Linked DNA regions of Homo sapiens. The protein of the gene in region 1 purifies or fractionates together with the protein of each later gene. This does not show direct contact. Each region holds a gene or a part of one and is shown on either strand. Other genes may lie near its edges.

Region 1 (3,500 bases):
TCTGAGGAAAGGAAGGCCATCGGGACACCCAGTCATGGCTGCCCTGGAGGCTTCCTTTGCATCTTAAAATGGAGATGCCCCACAGATGTGGCTGCCTCAGGCCAGCACCTCAGGGAGGGCATAGGGAAACTGATTTTGGCATCTGATGTGCTGGGCAACCCTGGGCAAGTCACACAGATTCCTGAGGGTTAAGACCTGGACCCAGATGGCAAAGAGACCAGAGGCTCCAGAGCCATGCAGGAACAATAACACCAAATGAATGGACAATGCTTGTAACTCTTTCAAATGCTTTCTAGGCTCCCCTCAATCCCCTTGATACATAATCACATTACCTCTGTTTTACAAATGCACGAAACTGAGACACAGGCAGAATGATTTACCCAAGCTCACACAGTTAGTGACAGGTGACAGGTTCAGGATTAGAACTCATGTCTTGTTAAGCTGAAAATGTCCTTTACTCTTTTAATTAATATTGTGGACCCTGGGGTTATTGTGTCCACTTCAAATTCTTGCCAGTCTTTTCCAGGACCCTTTGCTCTCCATGCCTACTCAGCTCTTGGATTCTCTTCCTTCTTCCTGCCTATTTTCTCCCCGCTTGCTTGCTTCCTCCTGCAGTATGGGAATATGAACTGTATTTGTGCAGAAAGGATGGCACCATAGTCATGCTTAGTGTTTCTAGCTGTGCAAGACCTCCCAATATCCTTAAGCCTTGCTCTGCAGACCAGTTTCACTGGCCTTTGTCAATCCTGCTGGACAAAGTTCACATGACTGCACTCTTTGCTGAGCCAAGCTGATGGGGAGCTTAGCCAAGATGCAAGAACCACTTCCTTCCCTCTCTTACTGCTTCATAACAGGAGAGTCCTGGATTCCCCAGAGCTTGAGACCAGAGGGTTTGCAGTCTCACAAGTGATGCTCCCAAGAGTAACAGGACTGTAGGTGAAGGTGGAAGCAAAAGCCAGAGCCGCCTCCCTCCAACACACCCAACACACAAGCAGGAGGGACCCGTGAGAAAGATGGAGAAAACGTATTTGTTTGAGTGGTTTGTAGTGTTGGATGAGGGAGAGAAGTGCTTGGCTCAATCTGAGGAGGTGCTAAGATATAAATTTGGGCACAGTTAGTCCATAGAAAGTATTCAGTTGAGGCTCCATCTGTCCATCATGTCCAGAAAGATTCCAAGTGGTGATGCTAAGATAACATTTGGTTGATGGTAATGGAGACACTGAGATGTGATTGGTCCATGCTGTCTGAGGGGACCATTCTAAGTAGTCAGATGGAGATGTGATTGGCTCACAAAGTTCTGGAGCAGTCTGAATTATTCCTCTTACTCAGGGGTAAAGACACACAGGCTAGCACCCTGCAGCCCCAGCTGTGCCCCTTCTTGCTTCTGGGTTGTCAGGGAAGACCAGGTTTTTGCTGTTTTGCAGCCCATGTCAAAGACCTGACCCTGAATTTTGCTGGACTCAAACCTCTCACTCCTCCCTCTGCTCTCTTCAGTTGGTTTCATTGCCAGCCCCTCTCCATGTCAAGAGCTCTACCCATAGGGATGTTCCCACACAGATGGGCGTCTGGCTGGAGTCCATGTCTGACACCTCCCCGGTGGAGAAGGGCCTGGCAGTCTCTCTCCTCCAGCTCCCCAGTCCTAAGGGCTCCCACACTCCTTGCCTGATACTCCATGCTCTCCCTTCTCTCCTCAGTCTTGTGATTAACATCCTTGCCATTCTCTGCTAGGCCAAGAGGTGTGTTGGGAGTGTGTCTCTAGCCCTGGGCAGATGTAGCACTGACAGGAAACACCTGTCTATAGGGTCGATCTAAGGGAGACCATCTTGGCATCTTCTGCAGCCTTCAGAGCAGAGGTTCTTCACTGAGGAAAGAAGGTAGTCAGGGAAGAGAGGCTTTGTGGTTAGGGCTTTGCTTGCTCTTTCAGTAGCTCAGGAAGAAGCTGCTGGGCCCCATCCAACAGGATTGCTGTGGGATACCACCCCCCACTGTCCAAGACCTTGCTCAATGCTTTTGCAAAGTATAGCGTGCGGGGGCACGTGTGGACTCTTTTGTAGATTTCTAAGGGCAACCCTCTTCTCAACAATAAGAACCCTGTTTCTCAAGGCTGGTTGGGGGAGGCATAAGAAGACAATTCAGGGAGGCTACTCTGGTCACTCAAAGACCCCAGCTCCCCTGATGAGGATCTGCAGTAACAGGCATTTCTCCAGATGTGCTCCTGGATCTAGCTCAACCCCAGGGAATAGTTGGTGGTCACAAAGCATTTGGCCAGGGTCCATCCCCCAGGTGTGGCTGAGTCAGCTTGGGAGGGTGGGGGTGAATATGGGGAGCCTGAGCTGAATCTGGGAGAGACTGGTTTGGAAATCCTTCGGGACTGAAGAGGGAGAAGGGCAGGGCAGGGAGTATCCCCACAGCAACCTGGCTGGGAAGGTTTCAATAGCTGCCTCCTGAGCAACCACAGTGACCCAACCACAAGGCCCCCTCTTCCCGGCCACCTCCTTTTCTTCCTGGTAGGGTGTGTTGTTGCCAAGACAATGGGGTCCATGGCTCCTCTCTCCTGCCCCACCTTGAGGCCAGCCAGGCCAAGGCAGGGCAGGGATTCCATGGAGGGGGGCTGGGGTGCAGCTGTCTGCTGGTGTCTGGGTGGGGGCCAGAGAAGTGAGCACAGTCGCAGCTGGTGCCATCCTCCAGCTGCACCTTATCTGTCCCTGGCAGTGGGAGCAGCTGATGTGGCCAGAATGCTGAGCAGCAGCAAGGGGAGGGGGCTGGCAGATGGTCACCCAGTCTGCCCTATGCCACCCCCTCCTCCGCTGAGACCTAGACCCTTTGCCTAGCGGAGAGAGAAGCAGGAATTCATTTCTGGGGCCTGGAAGAGAAGGAAGAGGAGGACAGAGTGGAAATGCTGGGGTGGACATGTGGTGTGACTCATAATCTCTCTCAGGAGGGTGAAATTGGGGGACAGGAATCCCTGGGAGGGGTCCACAGGAGTCCTTCTCAGGACCCTGGATTGGAGACCAGAATCTCCCAGGGAAGAGGTGGAGTGAATGGGGATGAGCACAGAAGCCTCCCCTGCAATCCACTGCTAGGTTCTGAAGGGGCCCGGGCATCCCCTGGAGCACCTAGGGAAGTAAGATGCTGCAATGAGAGGTGGCTGTGGGCGCCTGATCCTGGGACCCAAAGTGGGGAGAGAGAAGTCATCTTAAAGCAGGAGAGCCAGGGATGGCAGTGCCCAGCAAGAGCCAGGACTAGCATGGAGTTTATTCATCCCTAGGGCTCACCCCTCATCCCCACACCCCATGCTGCCCCATAGAAGCTCAGACCAGAAGTCCCTTGGGAGGGCCTGACCTTACTACTGGGGTCTGCACCCTCCAGCTAGGCAGGGAGTGGAGGGGCTGCTGAAGGGAAAGGCTGCCCAGACTGCCATGCAGACAGGGGAAGGGGAATCTTGGGCAGCCCCACCCAGAGGCCTGGTGGTCTTCATGGGTGGGAAGGGGGAACATGCA
Region 2 (3,500 bases), on another chromosome or scaffold:
AGAGACAGGGTTTCACCATGCTGACCAGGCTGGTCTTGAACTCCTGACCTCAAGTGATCTGCCCACCTTGGCCCCTCAAAGTGCTGGGATTACAGGCATGAGCCACCACGCCTGGCCCCTGCCTCCCAAGTAGCTGCAATTACAGGCACCTGCCACCAATGCCCAGCTAACTTTTGTATTTTTAGTAGACACAGGGTTTCACCATGTTGACCAGGCTGGTCTCAAACTCCTGACCTCAAGTGACCCACCCACCTCGGCCCCCCAAAGTGCTGGGATTACAGACATGAGCCACCATGCCTGGCCCCTGCATTCGTTTTCTAAGGATAAAGGCCTCCAGCTCCATCCATGTTCCTGCAAAGGACATGATCTCGTTCTGTTTTAATGGCTGCACAGTATTCCATGGTGTATATGTACCACATTTTCATTATCTAGTCTGTCATTGATGGGCATTTAGGTTGATTCCATGTCTTTGCTATTGTGAATAGTGCTGCAATGAACATAATGCATGCATGTGTCTTTACAATAAAACAATTTATATTCCTTTGAGGGTATAGCCAGTAATAGGATTGCTGGGTCAAATGGTATCTCTGTTTTTAGGTCTTTGAGGAATCAACACACTGCCTTCCACAATGGTTGAACTTATTTATACTCCCACCAACGGTTTATAAGCATTCCTTTTTCTCTGCAGCCTTGCCAGCATCTGTTATTTTTTGACTTTTTAATAACAGCGATTCTGACTGGTGTGAGATGGTATCTCATTGTGGTTTTCATTTGTGTTTCTCTACCGATAGTAATGCTGAGTTTTTTTTCATACGATTCTTGGCTGCATGTATGTCTTCTTTTGAAAAGTGTCTGTTCATATCCTCTGCCTACTTTTTAATGAGGTTGTTTTTCTAAGAAAAACATTTGCCTTTTACTTTAAATCAGAAATCAGAAATGAGAGGTAGATGAAATCAGTTTTCTTGTAGGCAAGGACTAAAAATAAGTCATGTTTTATTTTTCCTTAAGCACTAACAATTTAATAAGATGATTTTCTCTTAACTTACCTGTCCTTCTAATAGGTCACAATCTTCATCTTTAACTTGTCCATTAATCAAATAAACACCATTTTCTATTTCCTTGGCCCAGCGTGTAAGTCCATTCTTAACAGAAACACAACATGGAAATCTTTCAGATACAATGCCATCTCAATTAAACTTCCTATAATCTACTTTGTTCCACCTAATAAATTGAAATATTAAAATCCCTAAATCTCATTACTGCAGCATTTAAATCTAGTTTCACAAATTAAAAAAAAGTATACCCCCATTCTTGATACCTTATTATATTTAATAATAGTTATTTTCTGATCTTTATCCCAGAATAACATTTATGTCACAGACTCAGGAGGTTATTAAGTACATGATCAGTTAAATAAAATTTAATGCCCACTACCTTAAAAAAAAAAGTGAGAAAAAAGCATCAAATAAGTCTAAAAAATAAAAAAAAAAAGCTCTATTTGACATCTTCAATGGGAAAAATGAAGAAAAATAAGATAAAAATAAAAGAATGGTATAGAAATACAAAAAAGAACTGGAAAAAGGAAGACAAAAAAACCTAAGTACTAAGAGAAAGCTAAAAGTCCAAACAGTATAGCTTCTTACATTAATTACATTTTACATGTTAATTAATGAATACTGTTATATTTAGTTTAATGACAAAGCACATAATAATACTTAATCAGCACATAATAAGTACTAGTATATTTAGTCTAACAACTAAATTATTAGTTATTATTAAACTGAATATACTAGTATTATGACATTGTTCCACTTCTAAAAATTTCTAAAAATTTCTAATTTGGCTGCGGTAATAAGTTACTCACATAACAACATTGTAAGCAGAATGTAATTTTTGAGGATTGTAAAATGAATGACACATGTAAGCAGAATAAAAGCAGATTGTTCACTCAGCAATCACTGAAGAAAATTCATTTTACCCTGGTACCTTTGTATTTTTCTCCAGAGTATAGCTGACAGAAGTAGCAGAAAGTGGGATGTGAATATTAATGTGAACTGTACACTCTAAAGAAAGCCATGAGGATGATAATCCACTTTGATACTTCCAATCTGCTGGTCTTGCTGAACTCTAGCAGTGGAGAAGGGAGAAAAATAACTATGATGTAGTCTAGATAAAATACATGGATCAACAAAACATTATTAAATATACAACCTAAATAACGCATACAAACTCATATCTAACATATATGGCTAAACCCTTGATCAAAAGACTATAGGTTGAACTAAACACAAAATAAAGCATGTGTTAAGTTCAGTACTCTTCAATACATCCTTGGCAATACTTCTCCTCCCAATGGTAGGCAGAAAAAGAATCAGAAATTTCCATGTTTAGAATTCTGAAAGGTCCTTTGATCCTCTAGCTTCAACAGTATCAATACTGAAGATTCTGATCTGAAGCAAATAATCACTGAGCAACTCCTAGGTGGCAGGCATTCTCCTTTCTGTCCCATCCTTGCTAATGACACTGCAAAGTTACTTTTTCACAACCCTTTTAGATGCATTAGCAAAGTGCTAATCTGGGTTTTGCTGAATACACATAGCTTGTTTAATAGGCAGTGCAGCTACCAAAAGTCCTCAGTCACTTTTACTACCAGCCTCTCAAATATAAAACTAAATACACAAACAAGGTAGGAGGAGATTAACAAAGATATTTTAACAATTTTTTAAAAAGTTGGCTGGCCGTGGTGGCTCAAGCCCGTAATCTCAGCACTTTGGGAGGCGAAGACAGGCAGATCACTTGAGCCCAGAAGTTCAAGACAAACATAACTAACATGGTGAAACCCTATCTCTATCAAAAAAAACAAAAAACAAAAAACAAAAATAATTAGCCAGGTGCAGTGGTGCACATCTATAGTCTCAGCTACTCAAGAGGCTGAGGTGGGAGGATCCCTCGAGCCCAAGAGGTGGAGGCTGCAGTGAGCTATGACTGCATCACTGCACTCTAGCTTGGGCAAGAGAGTGAGACCCTGTCACGCACAAAAAAGTTTTCCTTATCTGTAATAAAATTAATCATATTTCAAAATAAAAACTACAGTTGTTTGTAGGCATCAATAGGAAGTGATGGCAATGGAAATTATTAAAACTAAATAAAAGCTGAATTTTGATTGAAAATACTTTGTGACACAGAAAAATCTTTAAAGAGTAAATTTCTTACCTTTGGATCATGGATATCATAAGTTCGACAAAATATTCTTCACTAATTAAGGACAGAAATAACCAAAAAAGGCATTATTGGTAACTAAAAGAATATAAACTATCAAAAAATAAACTAAAAAATGCACGCATCCAAAAGTTCTTACAAAATCATAACACTTTAAAGATATGCGTACATATATGTACATGTGTGCATATATATACATATGTGTATATATAATCATACATACAAACTGCTATCACTATAGTACTTGCGGTGCTTGAAAATCATTTCCTACCTTTTATGAA

Evidence for each region. Proteins that work in one complex are often made in the same cells at the same time.
Region 2: the proteins of ASIC1 (region 1) and ODR4 purify together in Homo sapiens (affinity purification with mass spectrometry; one large-scale study listed by BioGRID and IntAct). This does not show direct contact.

Annotation. Positions count from the first base shown.
Region 1 is NC_000012.12:50,060,596-50,064,095, forward strand, and holds part of ASIC1 (acid-sensing ion channel 1), read left to right. Parts: intron 1-3,500. UniProt on the Homo sapiens protein: Forms voltage-independent, pH-gated trimeric sodium channels that act as postsynaptic excitatory receptors in the nervous system, playing a crucial role in regulating synaptic plasticity, learning, and memory.
Region 2 is NC_000001.11:186,389,338-186,392,837, reverse strand, and holds part of ODR4 (protein odr-4 homolog), read right to left. Parts: intron 3,251-3,500; coding exon 3,214-3,250; intron 2,128-3,213; coding exon 1,987-2,127; intron 1,143-1,986; coding exon 1,047-1,142; intron 1-1,046. UniProt on the Homo sapiens protein: May play a role in the trafficking of a subset of G-protein coupled receptors.